7 separate regions of the Homo sapiens genome follow, and regions 1, 2, 3, 5, 6 and 7 are each reported to be linked to region 4. The links are microRNA targets in miRTarBase. Many come from high-throughput screens and were not tested one by one. Region 4 holds a microRNA gene; each other region holds the end of a gene's coding sequence.
Evidence for each region. Region 4 holds the annotated microRNA hsa-miR-548z (CAAAAACCGCAAUUACUUUUGCA, at 2,690-2,712, shown strand). A microRNA usually pairs through its seed, bases 2 to 8, with sites in the 3' UTR of a target mRNA and lowers its output. Matches are read on the target gene's strand: a 7mer-m8 pairs with bases 2 to 8, a 7mer-A1 pairs with bases 2 to 7 and ends in A, and an 8mer does both.

Region 1 (4,080 bases), not on the chromosome of region 4:
TGGTGAGAAACCCTATGAATGTAAAGTATGTGGAAAAGCCTTTACTAAAAGTTCACAACTTTTTCTACATCTGAGAATTCATACTGGTGAGAAACCTTATGAATGTAAAGAATGTGGGAAAGCCTTTACTCAACACTCAAGGCTTATTCAGCATCAGAGAATGCATACTGGTGAGAAACCTTATGAATGTAAGCAGTGTGGGAAGGCCTTTAATAGTGCCTCAACACTTACTAACCATCACAGAATTCATGCTGGTGAGAAGCTCTATGAATGTGAAGAATGTAGAAAGGCCTTTATTCAGAGCTCAGAACTTATTCAACATCAGAGAATCCATACAGATGAAAAACCATATGAATGTAATGAATGTGGGAAGGCCTTTAATAAAGGCTCAAATCTTACTCGACATCAGAGAATTCACACTGGTGAGAAACCCTATGACTGTAAGGAATGTGGAAAGGCTTTTGGTAGTCGCTCTGACCTCATTCGCCATGAGGGAATTCATACTGGTTGAATGACAGTAAAGTAAGACCATTTTGTTAACCTTTATAATAATTTTTTTAAAACAGGTAAGGAGAACAAATTAGGATACATATTATCAAAGGTTCTCCTATGTATTCGTTTTTAAACGATACGATAACAAAGTACCAAGTACCAAAACCTTGGTGGCTTAAAACAAGAGAAATTTATTCTCTCATAGTTTAGAGCCTGGAAATCTAAACTCAAGGGTGCTGATCGTTTTGGTTCCTTCTGAGGACTCTGAGGATCTGTTCTATGCCTTTTTCCTAACCTCTGTTAACAGCTGGCAGTCCTTGGCATTCCATGGCTTTTACATACACCATTCCAATCTCTGCCTCCATCTTCACATTGCATTCTCGCTGTGTATCTCTGTGTATGTCTTTTATTTGGACACCAGTCAGGTTAGATTGGGGTTACCTGGTGACCTCATCTTAACTTGATTATATCTGCCAAGACCCTGTTTCCAAGTAAGGTCACATTTACCGGTACCAGGGGTTAGGACTTCAGCATATCTTTTTAGGGGATACAGTTCAACCCATAATACCCTGTTAGAATGATTTTGTCTAATATATTTGTAATTTCCTTTTATACATAAGTTGTTAGTCAAATTTATTTTATTTTATTTTATTTTGAGACAGAGTCTCGCTCTGTTGCCCAGGCTGGAGTGCAGTGGTGTGATCTCAGCTCACTGCAACCTCCAGCTCCTGAGTTCAAGCGATTCTTGTGCCTCAGCCTCTCAAGTAGTTGGGATTACAGGCATGCGCCACCATGCCCGGCTAATTTTTTTTTTTTTTTTTTTTGTATTTTTAGTAGCGACGGGGTTTCACCATGTTGGCCAGGCTGGTCTTGAACTCCTGACTTCAAGTGATCTGCCCGCCTCAGCCTCCCAAAGTGCTGGGATTACAGACGTGAGCCACCGTGATGGCCAAAACAGACTTTATACCAACAAAAATTAAAAAGGACAAAGAAGGTCATTTATAATGATAAAGGATAAATTCAACAAGAAGATAAAACAATCCTAAATATGTATGCACCCAACACTGCAACACCCAGATCCATAACACAGATACTACTAGACCTAAGAAAAGAGATAGACAGCAATACAACAATAGCAGGGGACTTCACCACTCCATTGACAGCACTAGACAGATCACTGGGACAGAAATCAACAAAGAAACTCTGGACTTAAATTGGACTCTACACCAAATGGACCCAACAGACATCTGAAGAACATTCTACCCAACAACCACAGAATATATACTCTTCTCTTCTGTGCATGGAACATTCTCAAAAATAGGTCATATACTGGACCACAAAGCAAGTATCAATAAATTTTAAAAAAACAAAATCATATCTAACATCTTCTCTGACCATAGTGGAATAAAACTAGATATCAATACCAAGAGGAACTCTCAAAACAGATACATGGAATTTAAACAGCTTGCTCCTGAATGATTTTTGGATCAATGATGAAACTAAGGTGGAAATTTAAAATTTTTTGAAATAAATGAAAATAGAGACAAAACACATGAAAACATCTGAGATACAGCAAAAGCAGTGCTAAGAGAGGATTTTATAGCATTAAATGCCTACACCAAAAAGATAGAAAAATCTCAAATGAATAGCCTAACGTCACATCTCAAGGAACTAGGAAAAAACAAAACAAACTCAACCCAAAGCTGGCAGAAGAAAAGCAATAACAAATATCAGAGCAGGCAAAAATGAGACTGAGAACAAAGGAATGCAAAAGATCAATAAAAGAAAAAGTTGGTTCTTTGCAAAGATAAAACTGACAGACCACTAGCTAGATTAACCAAGAAAAAAAGAAGATTCAAATAAATACAATCAGAAATGATAAGGTGATATTATAACTGATAACACAGACATATAAAATATCAGCAGAAACTATATGCACATATTAGAAAACCTAGAGGAAGTGGATAAATTCCTAGAAACACATAACCTTCCAAGATTGAACCAGGGAGAAATAGGAATCCTCAACAGACTACTGAGTATTGAAATTGAATCAGTAATAGAAAAAAATCTTGCAAAAACAAAAAGCCCAGGACCAGACAGATTCACAGCTGAATTCTACTAGACATGCAAGGAAGAACTAGTAACAGCACTATTGAAACTATTCCAAAAATTATAGGAGGGAATCCTCCCTAACTCATTCTACAAAGCCAGTATCATCCTGATACTGAAGCCAGGCAAGGATAAAACACACAAAAAAACTACAAGCCAATATCCCTGATGAAAATAGACACAAAAATCTTCAGCAAAATACTAGCAAACCAAATCAAACAGTACATAAAAAAGATAGTAACAGCACAGTCAAGTGGATTTTATTCCTGGGGTGTAAGGATGGCTCAACATATGCAACTCAATACATGATTCATCACATACACAGAATTAAAAATAAGCCAGGCACTCACACCTGTAATCCCAGCACTTTGCAAGGCCAAGGCGGGCAGATCACATGATGTCAAGAGTTTGAGACCAGTCTGGCTGACATGGCGAAACCCTGTCTCTACTAAAAATAGAAAAATTGGCTGGGCATGGTGGCAGGCACTGTAGTCCCAGCTACTTGGGAGGCTGAGGCAGGAGAATTACTTGAACCTGAGAAGCGGAGGTTGCAGTGAGCTGAGATAGTGCCATTGCACTCCAGCCTGGGCAACAGAGCAAATTGCTTGAATGTGGGAGGTGGAGGTTGCAGTGAGCCGAGATTATGCCATTGCACTCCAGCCGGGGGAGCAACAAAGCCAGACTCCATCTCAAAAAAAAACCAAAAAAAATCCTATTTAGTACAAGGTACATTATTTAGGTAATGAGTCCATTAAAAGCCAACACTTTCCCCACTACACTATATGTGTATGTAACACAACTGCCCTTGTAACTTCCTAAACCTATAATTAAGAAACAATAAAAGGCAAATTAAGAATGCTTTTTTAAAAGGTGGGGGCATTATGCTAATAAGTTACTGTGGATTTCAGAGTGCAGAGTAGAAAGATCACAAGAATTTAGTGTGGTAGGTGGGAACAGAAAATGGGTGTATAAATTTTATTGACGTGGGAGTACTGGATATTGTAGAGACAGATATCATCAGGGCAAGGAGATTAAAGATTTTTGCATTGACGGTTTGACACTATATTGTGGTAATAACACTGTATGTGTTGGGAGATAGAACAGGAAACATCTTCCCTGGAATATGTATACTATTAAATGTTTTATCAAACTTTTGATCAAACAAGACAGCACAATTTATAATTTCATTTCTATTTCTATGTTATGAGAAACTGATCATTTATTCAAATGTTTAACAGGCATGTTCATGTTACTATAAACTCTTCTGTTTCACCATCACGTTGTTGGTCATCTTTACTGATTACAAATTTCTTTACATATTTAAGAAATATATATATTTCTTTATATATTAAGGTTAGTGTTTGTCATATGTTGTTTCAGTAACTTTTCCTAATCTTTTGGCCTCTTTGGTATTTTTTAATAAGCAGAAATCTTTTTCACATGTAGTAAAATTTACAGTTTTTCCTGTACACATAACTA
Region 2 (4,080 bases), not on the chromosome of region 4:
GTGTGTCTTTATGTATGCTGTTCTTCAATAAAAAAAATTTTTTTAATCACGGTTTATCAGGATTCAGCTGCCCATTAGACACCTTTCTGTGTCTCTCTCTCTCTCTCTCTCCAGCTCTTCACAGAGGTCCTCCAGGATCAAGGGGACCACTGATTCCACCACTGCTGAGTCTCCCACCTCCTCCTTGGGGTAGAGGCCCAATTCGGAGAGGGCTTGGCCCCAGGTCTAGCCCATATGGTCGTGGTTGGTGGGGAGTCAATGCAGAACCTCCTTTTCCGGGGCCAGGCCATGGGGGTCCCACCAGGGGAAGCTTTCACAAGGAACAGAGAAACCCTCGAAGGCTCAAAAGCTGGTCTCTTATCAAGAATACCTGCCCGCCCAAGGATGACCCCCAGGTTATGGAAGGTGAGGTCCATTTTGTTATGCCCATTACTCCCAGAGTGACCTAATTTTCAGAAGATCATTCACAATCTTCTCTGGGCTTTCCTTTTTGCTTTTGAAGCAGAAGTAGACCTCAATGTTATTTCTCCCAGGAGAAAGACTACCATTCCAAAATACCTGGAAATGGTAGGGGGTAGAAAATCAGTTCTCCTTCTGTCTCTGCGTTTCATTGTATTTGTTTTCTTTGTTGCTCAAATTTTTAACTGTTCCATTTTCACTTGTTCACAGACAAATCCGACCGCCCTGTCTGCCGACATTTTGCCAAAAAGGGCCACTGTCGATATGAGGACCTCTGTGCCTTCTACCATCCAGGCGTCAATGGACCTCCTCTGTGAGACTGTGCCTTCCCATCCAGGCTGGAAGGAGCTCTCTGTGACCTAGCGGCCATTTATTTCTCTGTAGCCCTATGATGGCTACTGTGAGGCTCTTCTAACACCCTCAGTCAGTGACACACCCATCCCATCCACCACTTCCCCCGTGTGGGGTCCAGAGTGGTGTTGCATCACTGGTGCGCGGCATACGCGCTTTCTTCTGATCCAGCCTGTAGAGACTCGCCTTTGGGACCCATCTTTGCTTCCTTTCAGTTGCCTCCTGGATCTTCTTTCCCGTCATCAAATGACTGCTGAACAGGAAACCTCTTTGGTGCTGTTTCTTGTGCATCTGTCCACCTGTTCCCCAGTATTGCCCTCAATTCCTGAGAGCCCTGGAGCGGTTTCCTACCATTCCCTTCTTTTAGCTGCTTGTTTTAAGTCCTTTTTATGTGACATTCCCTACCCCCAATGTTGTCAGCTGCTTGTGAAACTCAGCCAGGTTGTCTAACCTGGGGTCAAGTTTGGGTGACTGGTGCAGAGTTACTTCCTAAAAGGCCACTCTCCCTGCCTTTGGATTTCATAGTTTCTCTGTCAGTAGCATGATCCCCACCGCTATGGTCTATCTATGATCACCGTGCTTTGTGAAACTGTGCATCCCCTTGTAGCCTTTCTCAGTGTCCGTGGCATTTTTGTGACTTCCCAGCACTAGAATAAGTTTTCCTGCCAAAATGAGTGAGGCGCTTGGTGCCCTCTGGACTTTCCCACTTCCCAACATGGGAGAATTGTGAACTTTCCATCAGACTGCCTCCCTGGCCCTCCCCATTCTTCTCCTGTTGGTTATTCTGAGTCTGACACAGACCCATGACATGTCTTATAAAGCCTCCAATGGCTTTATCCTACCTAGATCCCTTCCAGCCCATTTTAATTAGACTATGTCATTGTGAGGCCACCAGTCCATTCATTTGAATTCTGTGAATCTCCACCTTGCCTATCTTTGGGTAGAAGCTGGACAGTACTGTTGCCCTCTTCCAATCCTCTTCCCCTACATCCCTGGCACTGGTTGTTTTCTGTGAAAACAGCAGTGAACAGGTTCAGTTTTGAACTGGCCCTGAGGAAATGGGTCAGGAGTTGTATTGGCAAGAGGGAGGGGTGAGAGCTGTTGGAGAACTGAGAATGAGGTTTTTTTTTTTTTTTTCTTTTTAACTTTTTTTATATTAGTAATAAATGCAGTGGAAACCAGCATTTTATTTAATCCCTGTGTTCTAGTCATCTCTGGAGTTGCAGATGAAGCTGTTCTCACCTGGTGGAGTCAGCTTATTCTTTAGTTCATACACACTAGTGATGGGGAATGACAAAGCTTAAGGTTCTTCCAGGCTGAAAAAAACCAATGGAGGTTCCATTAGCCTGTAGGCATCAACCAGAACAAGCTGCCTTATGTTCAAGGGCAAAGTTTTGTAAGAAAAAGGAAAGGCCAGGTGTCCGTGGAGTTATTTTTAAATATTTTACTTTGCAGAGTTTGTGTTTATGGAGTGGTAATGATGAAGGAGTCTTTCAGCAGCAATTTGCAGAATGCCTGTGGGCCAGGCAATATACCAAGCACTAGAGATAACTGACAGCCAAAGCCAATGGATTTAAAATGTACAGGGAAGACAGGTTTCTCATAATCACAAATAGCATGTAAAGTTAAACCTGTCAAAAGTGCTGGGAAGAAGACAGGGAAGAAAAGAGGGTGAAAGAGAGTTGTGTAATAAAGGGAGTCAGGGTAGGAGATGCAACTGAGACAAGCTCCAAAGGATAAACAGGAGGTGGGGTGGGAGAGGGAAGTCAAGGCAAAGGTCTTCGCTAAAAGACCTAGGGGAAGAGGAGCTAAGAAACCTAGGGACAGTGGGAGATGATGCAGAAGAAAGAGGAGTTAGACCACTCAGGGCCTTGGAAAACATGAAGATTTGGCTCTTTTCTTAGAACAGAAGCCTTTGAAGAATTTTAGACAGGAGTATCATGGCTTAGGCTGGCTTTTCAAAAAAAATCAGCTTGTATGGAGAGGGCCCACCTTGGACCTGGAAGTTAATTAGAAGGCTACTGGCTACTTCAGTAGTACAAGTGAGCCATGATGGTGACATAGACTTGGGTAGTAGAGTTGGAGAAAAGTAGACATTTGAAAATTACAGGTCAAAATAAAAGTATCAGATTTCTCCAGGTAGTTCTGGCTTATGTAACTGCCATTTAAAAAGAAGTCTTAAGATAGAAGTTTATGGCTGGGCGCGGTGGCTCACGCCTGTAATCCCAGCACTTTGGGAGGCCAAGGTGGGTGGATCACGAGGTCAGGAGATCAAGACCATCCTGGCTAACATGGTGAAACCCCATCTCTACTAAAAATAGAAAAAAAATTAGCCAGGCGTGGTGGCCGGCGTCTGTAGTCCCAGCTACTCGGGAGGCTGACGCAGGAGAATGGCGTGAACCCAGGAGGCGGAGCTTGCAGTGAGCCGAGATCGCACCACTGCACTCCAGCATGGGCGACAGCGCAAGACTCCATCTCAAAAATAAATAAATAAAAAATAAAAATAAAAATAAATAATTTTTAAAAAGATAGAAGTTTATTTCTCTCACAGGTCAAGAGGTGGACAATCAACAATCCAAGATGTGTGACAATGCCACCACTACAAGGTCCCTGAGTATTCAGAACCTCAACCCCCAACTTTCAGATTCACAACCACAAGCTTCTATTCACTGTCCAAAGTGAAGCTCTGGCTTCCTCATCCATGTTCAAAGCCTCAGGATGGAGGAAGGGCTGAGAACACCAGTTGTCTGGGAAGAAACTTCTTTTTTTTTTTTTTTTTTTTTTTGAGACGGAGTCTCAGCTCTGTCGCCCAGGCTGGAGTGCAGTGGCATGATCTTGGCTCACTGCAAGCTCCGCCTCCCAGGTTCACGCCATTCTCCTGCCTCAGCCTCCCGAGTAGCTGGGACTACAGGCGCCCACCACCATGCCCAGCTAATTTTTTGTGTTTTTAGTAGAGATGGGGTTTCACCGTGTTAGCCAGGATGGTCTCGATCTCCTGACCTGGTGATCTGCTTGCCTCGGCCTCCCAAAGTGCTGGGATTACAGGTGTGAGCCACCACGCCCAGCCGGAAGAAACTTCTTAAAAGTTAACTTATAACTCCTCAACTTATGGGCAAGCATTTAAGTTGAGTTTATTAATTCTACAGAGGTTATCTCCCTAAAAGGGGGCTAGGAATGACAGGATTAGGGTTTGTGTTTGGTGATTTCAAAAGAAACAGGAAATTGTTCTGGCTTAGATGCTGTCAGAAAGATGACTACTTCTTAATCTTA
Region 3 (4,080 bases), not on the chromosome of region 4:
CCCAGCGCCGCCGCCGCCACCGCCGGGGCGCCCACCGCGCTGCCAGCCTACCCCGCGGCCGAGCCGCCCGGGCCGCTGTGGCTGCAGGGCGAGCCGCTGCATTTCTGCTGCCTAGACTTCAGCCTGGAGGAGCTGCAGGGCGAGCCGGGCTGGCGGCTGAACCGTAAGCCCATTGAGTCCACGCTGGTGGCCTGCTTCATGACCCTGGTCATCGTGGTGTGGAGCGTGGCCGCCCTCATCTGGCCGGTGCCCATCATCGCCGGCTTCCTGCCCAACGGCATGGAACAGCGCCGGACCACCGCCAGCACCACCGCAGCCACCCCCGCCGCAGTGCCCGCAGGGACCACCGCAGCCGCCGCCGCCGCCGCCGCTGCCGCCGCCGCCGCGGCCGTCACTTCGGGGGTGGCGACCAAGTGACCCGCTCCGCTCCTCCCTGTGTCCGTCCTGTGTCCGCGCGCGCGGGTGCCTTTCCCGCCGGAGACTCGGCCGGTGTGCTTCGTGCTGTAGTTATCGTTAGTTCCTCTTCCCGAGATGGGGCCGCCGAGAGACCCCAGCGCCTTTGAAAAGCAAGGTTTGTGCTGCGCTTCCAGTTCCGAAAAGCAGATGTTTAAGCCCTTGGACTGAGGGTGGGATCGCAGCTCCGAAGACGGAGAGGAGGGAAATGGGGCCCTTTCCCCTCTATTGCATCCCCCTGCCCGACTCCTTCCCCGCACCCACGTGCCCTAGATTCATGGCAGAAAATGACCAAATCCTGTGTATTTGTTTTATATATTTAATAACTGTTTTAAATGAAAGTTTTAGTAAAAAAAATACAAAACAAAAAGATTAAATTGCTATTGCTGTAGTAAGAGAAGCTCTTTGTATCTGAACATAGTTGTATTTGAAATTTGTGGTTTTTTAATTTATTTAAAATTGGGGGGAGGGCATGGGAAGGATTTAACACCGATATATTGTTACCGCTGAAAATGAACTTTATGAACCTTTTCCAAGTTGATCTATCCAGTGACGTGGCCTGGTGGGCGTTTCTTCTTGTACTTATGTGGTTTTTTGGCTTTTAATACAGACATTTTCCTCCAGAGATGTGTATGTAGCTTTTTCTTTATTTGATTTGGGAAAGGGAATCCCAGAATTGCAAGACGTTACCCTAAAACCTGAGCAAGGGAATCTCGGAAAAGTTAGAGAAGGGCTACTTCTGTCTCCTTTACCTGGCTGTGAGAGATAGATGGAAACAGTATTATTTGCCCTGATGGCGATTGTCTTGCATCTCACCACACTGACCCTCAGTTCCCATCCACCCCCCACCTGTCACGGTGGCAAACACAGTTTTATATGATTTAACTTTTTGCTCATTGTTCTAAGCTCTGCAAAACACCCAGGCAAGCATCAAAATGGTAAAATCAATAGTTCCTCTGAGCTGGATGGCTTTCACGAAAATGACTCACTTTAAAAGGCATGTAGATTTCTTTTCATATGCATGAACTTTAGCAGATAAGCACATTCCAAAAGCTGGTATTAAAACCTGAGATATTATTTTGGCATTTAGATTTTTTAAAAAGATAAACTCTTGGGGGATAAATAGTTAATGATCACAAGATTTTCCTCACTCTTGGTTTCCATGTTACAGTGTCTGCTGTGTAGTAGTTTCAAATTCTTCCAGGTTTTCAGAAGAATAAGTAAAAAGTCCTTAAAGAGACTTAATATTAAAAATTATTTTAAAAGCGTTTTTAAGAGACTTTGAAAGCTGCTTTCCCTTGCTCCATCTCGTCCTCATTTTGCAAGCATATCTGAGATTGGTCTAGAGCTATAGTTCTCAAAGCCTGGTCCCTGGACCAGCAACATCAGCATCACCTGGGAACTTGGAGATGCAAAACTTGGGCTCCACCCAGGACCTATAGAATCCGAAACTCTGGGATAAAGCCTAGCAATCTGTGTTCTCACATGCCCTCCAAGGCATTCCTATGCATTACCAGTTTGAGAACTGCTCTGCTGTGTTCTAGTGGAATGGAACCCTCAAATGTAGGTTGTCTCCTTTTATCTTGAGATGTCTATTATATCAAATAAATGGGATGCTTATTTTCCCAGCAATCTGGCTGAAGGAGAGGCTGGGTCATTGCCCTGCAGCTTCAGCTGCCCCTTTGACTCTTTGAGGTCCTGAGATATCTGTAGCAGGTACCAGCCCCTGAGAGGGGAGAGGGTGGAGTATTGATCTTTGTAGGTTGTAAGCATCACCATTTTTTAACCCTGTGGTAACTGGCAGGAGAAAAGTCAATAATTTTGCTAACCTTGATCAATTTAATGTAATCATAGCATTTATAACTCTGGAGACACATTATGTATTCTTTGTACACACATGTAATCACTCTCCCTGCTTTTTTCCAAGATGTATACCATGGCTCAGAGAGATTGAGCATCTTGTCTACAATCACACAGCTACACGAGGCAGAGCTGAGACTAAATCCAGGATTTCTGCCTCCCTGAATGGTATTGTTCGTCACTAGAAACTTCTTTTCCCAGGAAAATTAGGAGCTCACTGCTCAAGGTCCACCGTTTTGTTGACCTACCCTAGCCAATGTCAGATTTTGTGTAGCTACAAACCCCAAAGAACCTGATAGCATTAATTTTAAATGAGACACTCAGGCACTTAATGGAACTTTCTATATATGGGCCCTAACATCTACCTTTTAGGGGTGATTGAAATATCAACATCTATTGACTTTCAGAATTGCCAGTGGAACCTGCATGTGTGCATGTGTGTTCTGGGCTATGTGTGTGTGTGTGTGTGTATCACTGATGGACTAGTTAGTCCCAGAAAGTGAGGACAGAGCCTGTAGGTCCTTTTGATCTTGTTCAGCTGTAGTCGCCCACTGGGTAAAGGAAGTCAGGCCTTGACAAGTTCATCTGTGGGGTCTGTATTTTCTAGTCAGTTTGATTTGCATCATCTCAGTAGTGAAACGCTTCCAAGTACGTAATTTACTAAGGATAAGTCAGGAGTTCTATGACAGGAAAAGACGTGTGCCATTTTAGCCTGTGTACATGTGCACATGGCACCCCCAGATTCCAGCCCATTTATAAAGCTTCGTGGGGCCAGCTTGAGTTGCAAATGATATAGCGGAGTCCCCAGGATAAATCATCATTGTCAGTTATTTTTGCTTCTCCTGAGAGAAAGTTTACTCCTGGGGAGAATGGATACCCCTTGTTTAATATCCAGCTGCTGCCGAAGGCTGCCTTACTGAGTTTTCTGCTTTCATCCAGAGAGCTGCCTCCAGCCCCAGATCTGAACACTTTAGTCTTCTTTGGGTCTTGCCTCAGCGGAAGAGACCACCCTGTCTAAAGCCGCACCTCCTACCTGGGGCACCACATCCAATGACTGATCAACACAGGGGCAGAAAGACCCAGCCCTCTGGCCACAACTGGGGCAGCTCTGAAGGGTCCTCCACTACCCTCCAGCGCCCGCCCCTCTTCCATTCAAGACTGACTTCCCTCAGGGCTGGCTGAGGTGTCCATGGAGATTTCATGGAGTTGAACTACTCCCTCTGTCCACGTCTGCCTCCTCCCATTCCTTCCCTTCCACAGGCCTTAATCCACACTCCCTAATAAGCCTCTTGCACAGTGATCTCTATCTCACAGACTGCTTCTTGAGGAACCCCACCTGTGACAGGCAATTTACCCAACAACGTGCAGAATTGTTCTAGCCATGTGGTCATTAGGCACATATGAGGAGCACATCACAAAAATGCTTCTCATTTGCATTTTTTTTTTTTTGGAGACAGAGTCTCACTCTGTCACCCAGGCTGGAGTGCAGTGGTGCGATCTTGACTCACTGCAAGGTCCACCTCCCGGGTTCACGCCATTCTCCAGCTCCAGCCTCCCAAGTAGCTGGGACTACAGGCGCCTGCCACCACGCCCAGCTAATTTTTTGTATTTTTAGTAGAGACGGGGTTTCACCGTGTAAGCCAGGATGGTCTCGATCTCCTGACCTCATGATCTGCCCGCCTCGGCCTCCCAAAGTGCTGGGATTATAGGCGTGAGCCACCGCGCCCGGCCTCATTTGCATTTCTTTTACACAGATCACACATTTCT
Region 4 (4,080 bases):
TATCTTGTTACTGTTTGTTTTGTTTGTTTGTCTTATTGTTTGTTTGTTTTGTTCCTATTTCTTTCTTTTCCTTGATTTTCAGTATTGGTTTTTTTACATTAGGTAGAAACCTACTTCTTAGTAGACTGAGATTGCATAGAAGGTTTCTACCAGTCCGTTTGACTAGAGATTTTAAGGTGCCCCTCTTATTTCGGTGTTTGTTCAGACTGCTGTGCCTATACCAGAAGGTCTATGACATCTTATAGTACTAGAAGTCTTATCATGACATTTTTGTTAAAAACTTAGAAATTGATTTCTGAAAAGATTTTACAAATGTAGTGAGGTATTTTCTGTATTTTATCATACTAAATAATCTCCAAATAATCTGATAAATGAGCATAGTGTTCAGAAAAAACCTCTTTTAATGTGATGAATCTTTTATAGATTTAGGCATATTTATGGCAAACCGACTATGCTGTATCAGTCCCCCTTCACACCCCCGAGGCTCAACTGAGATTTACCATTGGAATTAATTGTGAATGGCTTTGTCTCAGGACTATAACATATTCCAAGCTAGAGGTTTCAGGAACAAAGCGTCTGCATCTGTCTTTGTCTTTAGCCCTCACGTGAGGAGCCCATTTATTAGCCTTCTTTATTAATTTTTTATATGGAGAAGTGACTCAACATGTACTAGACAGCCAAATAAATTACTGATCATCTCCTTCTATGCACAGTTTCATATTACCAAAAACTATACGCATATATGAGTTAAACAATTTGGTAATATGTTAACAACATAATATCTAGAAGTATCTCACCACTTAAAACATACGTGCACAAACACACATATTCAATCTTGTTGGCTTTTATTTGTTTCAATACTATAATTCTATTTTTGATATCCCTTCAATTATAATTTAGTTTCCATTGTTATGATATATAAATATATTTGTGCATAGACTATTTGGATATTTTATATTTGCATTAACTAAAAATTTTCACCGCATTTTTGCATGCATAATTTTGTTCTATTTCTTTCTCAATTTTGCTTTAAAAAGTATCTTCATTTTGCAGATGTGCAAGCTGAACAGAGGATTAGAACTTATTTTTTCTAAAAATCTAACAGTTAACTTCTAGCAGCATTGAGACCAGAATATAGATCTTCTGACTCCAGGCTCTTTGCGGTAAACATCAATCCCTCTGTGGCTAATGTCCAAACACAAGATGAAAGAAAACGTGGAGCAGAATACAAAAGGAATTATTTCATGCTGCATTCAGAGGTGTCATTCATACCCAGGAAGCACTTTTAATTACCAATCTGGTGTTAATTTTCTTATCTGTGTCTCATCTGTGACTAAACATTATCCAGCCCAGGCTGATAAATTCTGATATGAATCAGATATTATTTCAAATTTATGCTTTAGCCATACCCATGTAAGCAGTCTCCTACCCCATATATCTCATTTACAGAGACTGTTTATTTGTAGTTAACTTTTAAAAATTCAGATTCATAGAATTACAACTATAAATTGCCAAACATGTATAGAATTATTATTATACAGAAAATAATATCAGTGTCATTATATCCAATTAATCTTTCATTCAGAATCTTGTGCAGAACAGATTAAATTGAGAACTTAATTTTTTACACATTCACGATTTAACCAGAGAATGTGGCTCTATTTTATATTAACAAATAATTTCTTTGTTTATTCAATAAGCAGTATTCATTGTATTATTAAAAAATGGTCTACTCATAAGGTTTTAAAACAATTGAGTCTATTTATTTCTTTTCCCCTCATGTGTTAATATTTTTTTTGCCTAGTGCTTTAGAAAATATATGACCTAGAAAGCAGCCTAATTCTTGTCACAGCTGCAACCTTACTGATGCAGAAAATTTGGCATTTATATACAATGAAGCTGTCTCTAATGCTTTGTCCACCTTCTAGAATCCCCTTTGTTTAATTACTATGTTTGGAGCCTCAAAAAGGGCCTGCTTTCAGGAATAAGTGGATGGGAATGAGGGGATGCTGATGTGTGAATAAAACGGTGATATAAAAGAAAATGGCTAATTCCCCCCTCTGGCTGAAGTCTGTGGAGGTTGTTCTGCCTGTCACTGATAGCTGTGTGAGTCAGTCTCCAATTTGGGAATTACAATCCTGACCCACCCCCACACCAGGATTGCCCCTGCTACACGTTTCCATGGTGCCAAACTTCCCTGTCCTAGCACGTGATGGCAATTGCTTCTGCTTTCCCTGATAGATGTGCAGGGTTGGGGACAATGCTTGCCTTCCCAGAGTCACATCAATATCTCGCACAGAGCTGGCACATGGCGGGCCCTTCATAAATGCTTGTTCAATGAAAGAATAAAGACAGTTTAAAATTTGAGCTCATTTCTGCCTTTTTCTTTTTAATAGCTTTATCAAAGTATAAATTGATAGACAGAAAAACCCCACATGTATTTCATGTGTACAATTTGATGAGCTTGGGTATACATATACACCCATGATATCATCACAATCAAAATGATAAACATATCCATCGCCTCCAAAAGTTTCCTCTGCCCCCTGCTTTTTGTGGCAAGTGTACCACAGAAAACTTGAAGCCAAACTTGTGATCCTTCGTTGTTCCATTTCCAAAGCTATTAGGTTGGTGCAAAAGTAATCGCGGTTTTTGTCATTACTTTAATTACTTTACGTTTCATTAATGACAAAAACCGCAATTACTTTTGCACCAACCTAATACTTGCTATCATCACTTCTTGTCTATTTTCCATTCCTCTTATAAATGTTGTACAAACTAAATCACACTTAAATAAAATAAATGGGAAATAAAGAAAAAGGAAAAAAGGATGAATGCAGGGAAAAAACACTGCCTGGGTCTGTCTTCTGTCATTCCCCAAAATAACAAGCACAAGCCCTGATATTCATATTCCCAGCATTCACCAGTTGCCCTTTTTTTTTTTTGAGATGGAGTTTCACTCTTGTCGCCCAGGCTACAGTGCAATGGCGTGATCTTGGCTCACTGCAACCTCCACCTCCCAGGTTCAAGCGATTCTCCAGCCTCAGCCTCTCGAGTAGCTGGGACTACAGGTGTGCACCACCATGCCTGACTAATTTTTGTATTTTTAGTAGAGATGGGGTTTTGCCATGTTGGCCAGGCTGGTCTCAAACTCCTGACCTCAGGTGATCCGCCAGCCTTGGCCTCCCCAGATCCTGGGGTTATAGGCGTAAGCCACCCTGCCCGGCCCAGCTGACTTTTATCTTGAGTGACAGTTTTAGAGAAAGGAGGAGGAGGAAATTAGTATATATGGCAGTAGTATGACATTTCATGATCTTAAAAATAGATTTCACCAACTGTAGAAGGTGTTCCCTAAACTAACTGCCTGTGTAGTCTTAATCTTCTCAACGTAACAACAGGTAGTCCATATTGTGGCAGGGTTGGGAGGTGGTGATGGAAAGGGGAGGTGTGAATTCCACAAGGTCTGAGACTGGGACAGGAAGTCTCCATTTTGGCAGTGCTGGTGGGGTAAGAAAGGGCTAATTAGAAGAAAATGCAGAAGCTGAAGTTGAAAGATCAGGCAAAGGCAAAATACTGGTCTAGTAGGAAGTCCAGATCATGGTCAAGTTGGATGGCTTCAGAGGGAGCTATTCAGATGGGCTCCAAAAGTGTCAGCGATCTTCTCTGATAAGCTACCCAAGCTCAGGGCAGGGATACTGATGCTCATTTTATGGTAAGAGCCAGCAAATGAGATGCACTGATTCCACGTTTGTGGATTCTAAACAGCATTTTGCCTTCCTTCTCTATAGTCCTCTTTGCAGCACTCCACGTTACCACCACGGGCATCCCAGATGTTCCTCCTTCATAAACACCTCTAGTTGTTCGCTTTCCCAACTCATCCCTTTTCCCAGCCTCAAGGAAGATAAATCAGTTTTGGGCATTAACTTCCATCCAGTGCACTGGGCTGAGGAATCAGCATGGCTGATTCTGCTATCACTTTCACGAAGCCTGGGGGCAAATGAGGGGAGTAGGGAGGGGTTGGGACCAGGGCACACACATATTGTGAATCTAGGAAGAATCTTAGGATTAAAGCTGTTGCAT
Region 5 (4,080 bases), not on the chromosome of region 4:
GCCATTATTCTGGAAGTTTTTCTTTTATAACTTCTTTCCATTTTTTGATGACTTAAAAAAATTTTTTTTACCATTAAAGAGTAGTCGTGTATAAGATAAAATTCATGAACATCTTGTTTATATGAAACATTCTCCAAGCCAAGTAGGAAATGTAAGATTATATTCCAAAATTCTCATATAACCTTTCCTCCTTTTTTTCCTCAGGTGTTTGGATTTATAGCAAGTTTTATGTTCCTACTTGACTTTATCACTATGCTGTATGAAAAACGACAGGAGTCCCAGCTGAGAAAACCTGAAAATACCACTAGGGCTGAAGCCCTCACTGAGCCACTTAATGCCTAAAGACTCTGGGGAGCAGATGTTACCTAAGGTAGTGACCCTGCATTGTGGTGCCTGAGCCCTGGCAGAAGCTCTTGTAAAATTTGTTAATTGTTTAAACCACTTCTTTTGGAGAGCAAGGGGAAGGTCAAGAAGGCAGTTTTATCAATATTGTGTCAGTCACCACAAAGTAGGCCAGATAAGTTAAAAAAAATTTTTTTTTAAATAATAATTGAAACTTATCTCAAATGGAGATTTTGGTGGGAGGAGGAGAAAACAATTGTTTTTAAATCACACAGCTCAACGGTTGATAAATGATTCTGTCATTCTGTTACAGGTCATTCTTTTACTAGGCTTAGCTTCCAAATTATGCTTTATAGCTGTATAAACATCGTGATTATATTCATCTACTTAGAAATTGTTTTATTTTTAAATTAATTTGCTTAGCTGTTTGTTTTGATGCTTAGATTATGTTCTGTTAATGGGAATTTAACATATTTAAGAAACCAATATTTAAAATGTTGGTCTAGGTTTTTTTCCTTAACATATATTACCAGGCTTTACTGTATTTCACTCAGCCTTAAATGTTATAATATTTTTGGATAACGGTTATTAATTCTTTGAGACCTTCGTATAGCCTATAAAATGTATGGGAGATGTTGGTATTTTATGTGTATAAAAGCAACAATATCAGCAACTTCGTGTTTATACTGCACCTTGGTTGTTGATGTCAAGTAAAAAAAAGATTGTTTTGTAACACATAAAAAAATGGAAGAAACTGATACCACACCTAAGGACCAAAGATAAGAAAGACTTTTTGCCCAAGACAGTGAAAGTAATTATAAAAACAAGCTTTGACCACTTACCAAGTATCTGAAGAGATGAGTTCATACTATGATTTAGAAAGTGGTTCAATTCCCCTGTTGGCATATGATTATTTTTACTAAAATTAATACAGCTCTGTGGGTCTTCCTTAGTGTTTTCTTTGAAGCCAATCTGTTTTTTTTAGGACACCAGCCTTTGGTTTTTCATCTGTTCGAGATGCCTCTTCTCTGTCTCCTTATCAGATAGAAATGGAGTCATGTGCTGCTGCTTCATCTAGCAGAGGTTGGCCTCTGGCTCTGACACTTTTTGTCAGTTGTCTTTAGGTGGTCCTGAATCTTGGGCCCTTTTGATTGTGAATACTGTGTAGCAGGATCTTGAGAGTCCTTGTTCTTACATAGGCATTGCTCTAGTTTGTCTTTGGCAAAAAAAAAAAAAAAAAAAAGTAAATATCCAGGGAACCCTGCCCAGACTAATACTGTTGGTGGCATAAGAGAATCAAGCCATTCTCAAGAGATAACTTCATAACCAGAATTGTCTGTTGGCTAGCAGCTGTCACAGATAGGCAGGGCACTTGGGATATGACCTTTCTGTCCAGGTGATTCACAGACTAGACCTTTCTTATCCTCCTCCTAGAGTTTTGACTTGGGACTCTAGTGTTAAGATGATGAGCCCGTGCATCAGGTCCTTCTGCACTTTGGTGGAAGTCTCCCAGGGTAGGTTTCCTATTTGAAACAGTGGAATCATGTTTCCAGTGATAAAGTTTAATGACCTCATCCTTTTTTTTTTTTCTCATCTGCCATTTGTGTGTCTTAGATGGGTTTTAATTGCATGAATGTGGCTAATGTGGTTCTCAGAAATTGGTCAGTATGGCCCAACATAGCTTCTGCTCTGTCTTACTGACTCAATACCTTTAGGATTTGTATCAGAGTTTGGATACTAGTGTTAGTGGTGGTGTCACCACTACTTAATTGGGAGATAATGAAACCAATCATGGATGCTGTTTTTATTGGGCATGTCATCTAAGAGAGGAGAAATAGCTGGGTTTTGGGTCTAATTATGAATAAGGACTGATTCAGAAAACGAGTTTATGGTAGGTAGACTAAAGTTTCACATCAGACTGTACCATTGTGATTTAGACCTATCTAAAATTCAGAGCATATCATCTGGGCTACCTCAGGGTCACCACCCATGTATTGGGCTTAGTCAGGATTGACAGATACATTCTCAGCTGGCCTGTCATATAAAACATACTGTCATTGAGCTTAAGCTCCGCTTGTTCTGAGGTTTCACCTCCATGTGTTTCATTGGTGCAAAAGTGGATCTCTTAGTTGGTCACTTAATTCTTTCTTTTTCAGAAAGATAGTATGTTCACTGGTATATTTGGTCACTCTTAGAACCTTCCTTCACATTGTTTTTTATGGGACCCATGAATGGTTAGCCTTTCTTTTCTATTGTAGAAGGAAATAAATAGGAGTAAAAAGACCATTGTAGTAAATAAGTTCAAGGGGAACTTGGGACCAGAAACCACTGTTATGTACAAAAAAATGGCAAATTCAATAAACTCAAATTTAAAATAATTTTTAAATTAACAGTTATGATAAATTTTATATTTTATACAAATAGATTGCTTAGAATGGTTCTCAAGAATTATAAGAGAAATGAACTCACAGTACAAAAATTTTATAATTACTATACTTGTGTTTTGTTTGGGGGCTGGGAAATGTATTTTTACATTGTAGCCAATCATTTTATATTTGTCAATTTAAATCTTATGGGTCTTTTTTTTTTATCTCTCTTGATGTCAGATTTTATAGTCTTTTTAAATAAATCCATTTAATTAAAACGTTCTTACCTTTGTAAGTGTTTATTACAGAAGTGTGATGTTTAAATGAAAAGCTGTCTCTGTAGTTGTGGGAGTTGGCTGCACAATCTTGTTGAGTGCCTATATAGAATACTAGATTTTAGATATATCTAGGATAGAAAAGAAACAAATCCATTTCCCATCCATAAACTGTCCCTCTTGTTGGAAAGTTAGAATACACATTTAAACAACATTTTTAGGGAACCACAGAGGAAGACTTACAAATGGCTTTAAATACTTCCAAAGAAGCAATTTAGACTCCTTGTCACATTTCTAGATGTGGCTAACAATGCTAAAAACAAAATAGGCACATTATCTTAGGAACTGTTCAATGATTGGGAAAGTGTGAAGCAAAATTATTAGGGTGGTGCTGGTAAAACTACAGCTATTTGTGTAGTTTGCGAAATTCCTGCCTCCACCCTGTGTGAGAATAACAGGGTCTTTATAGTCATCAAGAACTCACTGGAATTTGTACATTCTTCAGAGTTTAGAGTTGAGTTTTGTTTTGATAAAGAGCATTGTATCAATATGCAATAAGCTGCAAGAAGCAGAAAATCTAATTAAATGTGTCTTAAACAGTAAGAAAAACTTATTTCATAAGACATCTGGGTACATTGGTGAATTCAGTGGCCAAATTTTTCTACAAGTACAGTAATGTGTGTCATAGAAATTGATATAATAAAGGGGGAGGCTGGGCGCAGTGGCTCACTCCTGTAATCCCAGCACTTTGGGAGGCCAAGGCAGGCGGATCAGCTAAGGTCAGGAGTTCGAAACCAGCCAGGCCAATGTGGTGAAACCCCATCTCTAGTAAAAATACAAAATTTAGCTGGGTGTGGTGGCACATGACTGTAACCCCAGCTACTTTGGAGGCTGAGGCAGGAGAATCGCTCAAACCCCAGAGGCGGAGGTTGCAGTGAGCCGAGGTCATGCCATTGCACTCCAGCCTGGGAAACAAGCGCAAAACTCCATCTCAAAAAAACAAACAAACAAACAAAAAAACAACGGGGTGGGGGGAGAAGTATTGTCTTTTCCCCAACATTTTTATATTTAGCTACTTTTTAAAATTTTTGAATTTG
Region 6 (4,067 bases), not on the chromosome of region 4:
AGAGAGGGCCAGGCACAGTGGCTCACGCCTGTAGTCCCAGCTACTTGGGAAGCTGAAATAGGAGGATTGCTTGAGCTGGGGAGGTCGAGGCTTCAGTGAGCTGTGAACGTGCCACTATACTCCAGTCTGGGAGACAAAGCAAACCCTGTCTCAAAAAAAGGGGTGGCAGGGGAGCGAGAGGGATTAATGGGAGGATGGCAAAAGGGATAGGGATTTCTATAAAATTCTCTGTCAAGCCATTTGTAAAGGGAGAGTTTTACTCTCCCTCCCTGTTTTGGTAGAGACTGATAATCTCAAATACAGTGGGTTTTGTGTGTGTGTGTGTTTTTATGACCTGAACTTTCAGCTCTGGATAGAAAATAGAGGCCTTACAAGAAATGTTCTAGGCTTTTCTTTTTATCAATATGTAAATAGGCATAAAGTGTTAAAAACTGGGAAGATAAAGCACATATTGCTGACAAATACTTGCTTTTTACAGACTTGTTCGCTGATATCTAAATTAAGAAGTTGGTTCTTGAGTGAATTCTGAAAATGGCTACAAACTTCTTGAATAAAGAAGACAGGACTCTCAATAGAAGAATTTCACATCTCCAAGGGACCCTTCCTTTCATTTTACACTTTGTTACTAATTTGCAGAACTCTATTAATTGGGTAGGATTTCACCCATTCCTAGCTAAGTTCTTAAAATTAAACCCTTTGGTTCGTGTTTAAAAACTTTCAAACATCTGATGGCTTTACAGGGGCTGAATATAAAAGCATTTGTACTTAAAGGTCTTGTGTATTCATTAAGAAATATAGTAATGTCTTTTAATGTTTTAAGAGTTGATCAGGGTTTACTATGATGCAAGTAATAGGATGATTAATAAGGGAAGGTTTTTATGAATTCAAAAGTCAATTATTCAAAAGCAGGGAAAGATTTTGAGAGAGGGAACAAAGTATTCTTAGATTGCGTAGAAGCTGCTAGGTTCCAGTTTTAATTTTTAGGTTTAGTTGGACTCTGTTATGAAAAGATAGGTTATGGGTGGGCGACAGGTTGATACAGTCTTAGAAAAAGCAGGTAATATCAAAGTATTGGAAAGCTAGCATGCATGCCCTCTTACCTGGGTATCTTCCCCCTTTTTTCCTTTTAAACTCTTGAGCCTCCTATAACGAAGGATTATGTGTTTCAAACCTATTTTTTTTTTACTGTTTCATTAAGTGTGCTTGTGCCCAAAATATTTACTTGTATAATATCTGTAACTTGCTTAAATACTTCAGCAAAGTCAGCATATTTACTCATTCAACAAATATTTGAGCCAGGCATTATTTTAGACACAGCAGTGAACAAAACAAAAAGGCATTCTTGCCTTCATGGAGCTTACATTCTTATTGTTATTTAAATCTAAATGTTATAAAACAAGAATTTATATTCTAGGGTTGATCAGCTAGTATTTAATCAAAAAGGCCACACTCCCATAGCAGCTACTCTAAGCTGTAGTAGCTAATAAAAAATATTAATGTTGGCCGGGCACAGTGGCTCACGCCTATAATCCCAGCACTTTGGGAGGCCAAGGGTGGTAGATCACTTGAGGTCAAGAGTTGTGACACCAGCCTGGCCAACCTGGTGAAACCCTATCTCTATTAAAAAATACAAAAAAATACAAAAAAATTAGCTGGGCATGTTGGCATGCACCTGTAGTCCCAGCTATTTGGGAGGCTGAGGCACGAGAATTGCTTGAATCCGGGAGGTGGAGGTTGCAGTGAGCCAAGATGGGGCCACTGCACTCTAACGTGGGCAACAGAGACCCTGTCTCAAAAAGAAAATATTCCTGTTAGCCCTAAAGGCTTTACATGAGGAATGGTAGAAGTGGTCTTTTGTTTAAATTAGTTGCATTCAGCATATATGAATTGTCTTAAATATTTTGGGGATACTCCCCCGCCTTTTAAACAGGGCATAAGATCTGGTAAACTCTCTGTATATCTTCCTACCTTTCAAAATCGTTCTTAGGGTTAGTCAAGTCTGGAATATAATTGCTGACTATAAAGTTAGCAATTATGCTTTTAAGGTGTTGTCACATCAACCTAAAGAGAACCATCTATGGAAGGTATGGTTGAAACATCTGTAGGAACACAGAACTGGGATTTCACTGAGTTTACCAAATCAACTGTGTGAACTGTTTCTGCACTGCTTGCTAATGGTTTCATCTAATAAATGTTTACTTATATAGCTGAGTTTGGTTTTATTCTAACAAATTACCTGGTGGTGTGATTGTGAGGTGATTAACAGTTCTCACATAGTTTACTGTTAGGTCACACACAGACTTCCGATCATAATCCATACTGCCTTTTTGAGCCTAAAATCAGCCTACTACCACAATTACCAAATATTCTGAAAATTTCTAGTATGGTGAAGATGGAGAGATCTTGGTGTGAAGGTTAATTTTATATGTCATCTTGATTATGCTAGGAGATGCCCAGATTTCTGGGTTTGTCCATGAGGGTGTTTCCAGAAGAGATTAGCATTTGAATCAGTAGACTGAATAAAAAAGAGCCACCCACTCCACTGCGGGTGGGCCAACCCCTTGAGGGCCTAGCTGGAATAAAAAGGCAGAGGAAGGGCAAATTCTGTCTTCTCTCTGCTTGAACAGGGACATCCATGTTCTATCCTTGGACATTGGTTCTCCTGATTCTCTGGCTTTCAGACATGGACCAGGGCCCCTGGTTCTCAGACCTTTGGGTTTGGACTGGAACTACACCATTGGCTTTCCTGGGCTTACTGTCTGCGGAAAGCAGATTGTGGGACTTCTCAGCCTCCATAATCACAAGAGCCAATCCCTCATAATAAATTTATTTCTATATATATCCTGTTGATTCTCTTTCTATGGCAAACCCTGACTTAGTAATATGACATGACTGTAATTGGCATTTTCAAAATGGTGGCAGTATGAAGGCTGAATCTTTCCTATAGGTAAGAAATTGTACCTACCATTAAACTGTGCCATAGCAAGTATAGTGACTGCTTACATTGCCCTCAGTTTGAAGGCTTTTAAGAAGTGGATAAATGGAACGCCAAGAAAAGTTGCAAACTTGCTAAGATAACAAAACAAAAAAGACATCAAAAGAAAATGTGACTTTACTCTGATAAATTCTTTTGTAAATTTCACACCATTTTATATAAAGTGAAATGATTGTTTTAGTAGTTCCTTTTGAAATGAACTGGCTTGTTAGCAGTTGCAAGGGATAGTTTTTAGGGAGCTTAACCTGAACGTTTTAGGATGTAAAGAGCTGCAAATACTCAGTCCGTAAGTGGCATGGGAGTACATTTGGAGACTTCAGCCTGTGAGCTAAGAATATTTTTTACATTTTAAAATGGAGAAAAAAAAAACTTTCATGACATGAAAGTTATATGCAATCTGGATTTCTATGTTGACAAAGTTTTACTGGAAAACAGCCATGCTCATTCATTTACATATTGTTTATGGCTGCTTTCACATTACAAAGGCAGAGTTGAGTAGTTATTACAGAAATATTATGGTCCACAAAGCCTAAATTATTTTCTATCTTTATAGAAAGTTTGCCAACTCCTTTTCTAAGGAGCTGTGCTTTAGACCTTGCTGGAGTTTAACTCCTAGGATCTCCTGTGATAACCGTTTATGATCAGTGAAATTCCAAGTACCCGCGACTTAACATGTCCCAAAATAATCCACGTTGGTGGGAGGGTGACACACAGTTCATGAATGCAAAGAGAAGTCCAATCATATAAACTTAAAAATCAGTTTATCTTAAAATTTTTTTGAATTAGAAGAAATTGATTTCACATGAAAATATAACATTCTGAAGGTAAGTATTTTAAACATTACAACTGTTGGCTGAAATATTTACAAAGTTATAATAAGCTTATAACTGGATGAAAGCATCTATAAAAATAAATAGGCACCCTAGATGTAAAACTTTTACATGAAATAAAATGATTAGTATATATGTATCAATCTGTATCTGGAGTGTTGAATCAACAAAAATAAATGGGCATTTTCTAGTTTGTGTAGTAGTACATGAGTCAGGAGGTTTCAACTGGACAGTACTTAAAA
Region 7 (4,000 bases), not on the chromosome of region 4:
TAACTGATCAGAAAATTATATTGATATGCAAAATCTCCAGTTAAAACCAATCTTGCAGTGCATTAAAAATACCGATTTCTCATCAAAACCTACAATATACCATGTGAAATGACATGGTGTGAAGAGAACAGTGAGAAAACTGTAGCCACAGCACAGCAAAAAGGAGGGCTGTGATGCATACACAGCTGAAATACACATAATAAGACAAACAAAACTAAGACAATTAGGAAATAAAAGAAGCACAATTTTTTAATTCAGCAAAACTGAGCTTTGCAGCCTGAAAATAAATGTCCTCTCCACATAAAAAATCAATGTTATTTCTCACAATTGATATGTTCCATCTCTGTCTTGAAGTTACAAACTAACTCCAACAGGAATATTTATGGCTTATTATAAAGCATCTGTGACACAGAAAGCACTGTCATGTTTGTTTGCTATATTTATATATAAAAACATCCTCATGATTTAGGAAGCCCCCCTAGTACTCACCTAAATAAATGGGCTCAATCAATATTTACTTATTTTCATTATAAAAACTGAAAGGAACAAAAACTAAAAAAAGTAGGCTTATACAGCGTTCTCCAATTAAAAGAACAAAATAAAATATTCTAACAACATAAAATATAACAATACACTAATTTTGAAATTAAATCTAAATTTTTTGCACTAATTTTATAAAAATTATTTTTATAATCTCTGACCAGCTCACATAGCATCTTATATAAAATAAGAGAAAAAAATGTAAGACACAAGAAAATTATGGGTCTAGCCTAAGAATCAGGCAAGTAAAAACAAAAATTTGCATAGGGAGATTCTGAATTATAAGCCATACAATTTTACAGTAATCAATTCAATACAAAGCAGAGAGTATGGATTTGTTTTCAGCATTTTTAAGTTTTTTTAGTTTTGCAGTCATCATCTAATTAAAATAATTTGATTTGTTTCAATATTGCTCTTCTGAAACTAGGTAGAAACTCATACTCGCAAAGAAGGCATTTATTTACTCCATAATTTTTTTAAACCCAAGCTTTATCTTTAAAGTAATATATGTATATATTTAACTCTGTGTAAATCAAAACTAATAGTCTGTATGTGCTTGCAGGCAGAGAGGCAACATGTTTGAAGAAAAATATATAACAATTTTTTAATGTTAATTCAGGTCTCAGAAATGTATGCATTTTGTTTATATTGTTTTCTTATGACCATAAAAGAGACCCTGTAGCCAACAACAATTTAATGTACATTTGAAAACAACTAAAAGTGGCTGGGTGTGGTGGCTCCCACCTGTAATCCCAGCACTTTGGGAGGCCGAGGGGGCTAATCATGGGGTCAGGAGTTCAAGACAAACCTGGCCAACGTAGTGAAACTGTTTCTACTAAAAATACAAAAATTAGCTGAGTGTGGTGGCATGCGCCTGTAGTCCCAACTACTCAGGAGGCTGAGGCGGAAGAATCACTTGAACCCAGTAGGCGGAGGTTGCAGTGAGCTGAGACCACGCCAATGCACCCAGGCGTGCACAGCCTGGGTGACATAGTGAGACTCGTCTCAAAAAAAAACCGAAAAGTGCAGAATTAGTTTATAATACAAACAAATACAAACAATAAATGCTGCAGGTAATGAATATTTCATTTACCCATATGTAATTATTACATATTATATACCTGTATCAAAATATGCCATATATGCCATATTTACACATACTATGTACCCACAAAAATTAAGAAAAATAAGTTTAAATAAGAAAAAATGAGTAATAATTCAACCTACAGGAATAATATTCTCTGACTTATTTGCAATTTAAAGCCACTGGCAAAACAGATTACTAGAAATGTTAGTCCATTATCTTATTAAATAGTGTATAGTTACCATCATTTACCTATACCCTTGAGTAAGATGGGATAAGTTAAATTTAATGGCATAATAATGCTTCATTGAATGCACGATGGTCTTAACATGTTTTTTAAAAAGCCTGATTAATAAGTTCACACATTATCTAAAAATTTTAAAATGTACTACATTTTATTACATAAAAGTACAATTGGCCAGGCATGGTGACTCGCGCCTGTAATCCCAGCACTTTGGGAGGCCGAGGTGGGTGGATCACCCGAGGTCGGGAGTTTGAGACCAGCCTGACCAACATAGAGAAACCCCATCTCTATTAAAAATACAAAATTAGCCGGGCATGGTGGCACATGCCTGTAATCCCAGCTACTCGGGAGGCTGAGGCAGGAGAATCCCTTGAACCTGGGAGGTGGAGGTTTTGGTGAGCCAAGATCACACCATTGCACTCCAGCCTGGGCAACAAGAGCAAAACTCTGTCTCAAAAAAAAAAAAAGTACAATTAGTAAAATGATATACCAGAAAATTTTTTTTCTCAATATAACACAGGATATTTATCTGAACTCCTACCTCATGCATCAGTCAATATTATAAATTAACCAGAAAGAGCCTCTCCACTTACATTTTCATCTTGCATCTTACATTTTAATGTCCTTAACTCTTTCACTAAAAAAGGTCGTAAATAATGCACACCTAATAACAAAGAATCTCTCATCTTTGATGCAGCAACAATTAAGTCACATGCTTTCACATGTGAATACAATAGGAATGAAGAGCATAACTTGAGTTAAATGACATTATTCACTTTTCATAAAACCTAATTTTTTTCAAAGGATAGTTTGAATGTAGTTACAACTCTGCAAAAATTTTCTACTTCTTATAATGTTATATACAAATAATTCATTTACCAACTTTAGTTTTAGATTCTTTTCTATACTCAGCAATCTGATTTAGTGTAATGCCTGAAGTGTCAGTGCCTTAACTATTTCTACTGTGAATTATCTGATATTTACATAGAATTTTGGATTAAATATTTTTTCATATTTACTGCATCTGCAAAAATAGATTTTAGTATGAACCCTCTAGTGTTTTCTAAGCTGTCGTTTTTGAAAAAATGTTTTCCCAAATTTATTACATTTGCAGGGTTTTTCTCCAATATAAATTTCCTTATGTTGCACAAAGTTTAAGCAACTGCTCCATGGTTTTCCTCTAGCACAAAATGTGTACAATGAGATCTGTGATACAAGTAAAGGTACCACAACCCTCCTTATGTTCATAATGTGTGTCTTCAAAATGAATACTCTTCACTTTAGAGGCTTATATTTTCTGAAAGATTTTTGACAGTAATTGCATGTATAATGCTTTTATTAAGTATGAAATCTCTGATGTTGAGTAAGATGTGAACAGATATTAATGGCTTTTTCACATTCTGTATATTTGAAATTTTTTTCTAGTACAAATGCTTTCCTGTGCAATAAGGTGTGAGCATTGGTTAAAAGTTTTGCCACATTCTTCACACTTGTAGGTTTTTTTTTAGTATGAATTATCTTATGCACAATCAAGTGTGACAACTTTTAAAGGTTTTGTTACATTCTTCACATTTCTAAGATTTCTCACCAGCATAATTTCTTTTATGTTTAGAAAACTTTGAAGTGTTTTCAAAATCACTGTTACATCTTTTAGGTTTGTAGAGTTTCTCACCAGTATGAATTTTCTTATGTCCAGTAAGGTTTGAGGACTGGTTAAAAGCTTTGCCACATTTTTCACATTGGTAGGGTTTCTCTCCAGTATGAATTCTCTTATGTCTAGTAAGGTGTGAGGACTGGTTAAAGGCTTTACCACATTCTTCACATTGGTAGGGTTTCTCTCCAGTATGAATTACCTTATGTGTAGCAAGATGTGAGGAATGGTTAAAGGCTTTGCCACATTCTTCACATGTGTAGGGTTTCTCTCCAGTATGAATTTTCTTATGTTCAGTAAGTTTTGAGGATCGATAGAAAGCTTTGCCACATTCTTCACATTTGTAGGATTTCTCTCCAGTATGAATTCTCTTATGTGTAGTAAGGATTGAGGACTGGTTAAAAGCTTTGCCACATTCTTCACATTTGTAGGGTTTCTCTCCAGTATGAATTCTTTTATGTGTAGTAAGGTTTGAGAACTG

Region 1: miRTarBase lists ZNF829 as a target of hsa-miR-548z. Seed matches in the 3' UTR shown: 7mer-A1 at 618-624.
Region 2: the mRNA of PRR3 is a reported target of hsa-miR-548z. Seed matches in the 3' UTR shown: 7mer-m8 at 1,930-1,936.
Region 3: the mRNA of TMEM158 is a reported target of hsa-miR-548z. Seed matches in the 3' UTR shown: 7mer-m8 at 892-898 and 7mer-m8 at 1,042-1,048.
Region 5: the mRNA of CMTM6 is a reported target of hsa-miR-548z. Seed matches in the 3' UTR shown: 7mer-A1 at 601-607, 7mer-m8 at 848-854, 7mer-m8 at 1,341-1,347 and 7mer-A1 at 2,143-2,149.
Region 6: miRTarBase lists ARLN as a target of hsa-miR-548z. Seed matches in the 3' UTR shown: 8mer at 872-879.
Region 7: miRTarBase lists ZNF681 as a target of hsa-miR-548z. Seed matches in the 3' UTR shown: 7mer-m8 at 1,552-1,558, 7mer-A1 at 787-793, 7mer-A1 at 531-537 and 7mer-A1 at 448-454.

What each region holds. Positions count from the first base shown.
Region 1 is chr19:36,887,923-36,892,002 of GRCh38, reverse strand. ZNF829 (zinc finger protein 829) reads left to right here. Exons shown (of 6, transcript NM_001037232.4): 6 at 1-3,879. The coding sequence ends at 511. It also overlaps a transcript of ZNF345 not described here. Among named protein-coding and RNA genes, the nearest start is that of ZNF829, 26 kb to the left of the region's middle. RefSeq lists an enhancer at 1-576.
Region 2 is chr6:30,561,720-30,565,799 of GRCh38, forward strand. PRR3 (proline rich 3) reads left to right here. Exons shown (of 4, transcript NM_025263.4): 3 at 115-405; 4 at 670-2,004. The coding sequence ends at 776. Among named protein-coding and RNA genes, the nearest start is that of PRR3, 6.5 kb to the left of the region's middle.
Region 3 is chr3:45,221,462-45,225,541 of GRCh38, reverse strand. TMEM158 (transmembrane protein 158) reads left to right here. Exons shown (of 1, transcript NM_015444.3): 1 at 1-1,076. The coding sequence ends at 417. Among named protein-coding and RNA genes, the nearest start is that of TMEM158, 2.8 kb to the left of the region's middle.
Region 4 is chr8:27,047,503-27,051,582 of GRCh38, reverse strand. It overlaps MIR548H4 (microRNA 548h-4), which reads left to right and starts at 2,620; the gene lies at 2,620-2,730.
Region 5 is chr3:32,480,222-32,484,301 of GRCh38, reverse strand. CMTM6 (CKLF like MARVEL transmembrane domain containing 6) reads left to right here. Exons shown (of 4, transcript NM_017801.3): 4 at 205-2,990. The coding sequence ends at 342. Among named protein-coding and RNA genes, the nearest start is that of CMTM6, 21 kb to the left of the region's middle.
Region 6 is chr4:119,295,191-119,299,257 of GRCh38, reverse strand. It overlaps ARLN (allregulin), which reads left to right. Exons shown (of 2, transcript NM_001001701.4): 2 at 479-2,839. The coding sequence ends at 479. USP53 (ubiquitin specific peptidase 53) reads right to left here. Exons shown (of 19, transcript NM_001371395.1): 19 at 3,740-4,067. Among named protein-coding and RNA genes, the nearest start is that of ARLN, 3.4 kb to the left of the region's middle.
Region 7 is chr19:23,740,170-23,744,169 of GRCh38, forward strand. It overlaps ZNF681 (zinc finger protein 681), which reads right to left. Exons shown (of 4, transcript NM_138286.3): 4 at 1-4,000. The coding sequence ends at 3,443. Among named protein-coding and RNA genes, the nearest start is that of ZNF681, 17 kb to the right of the region's middle.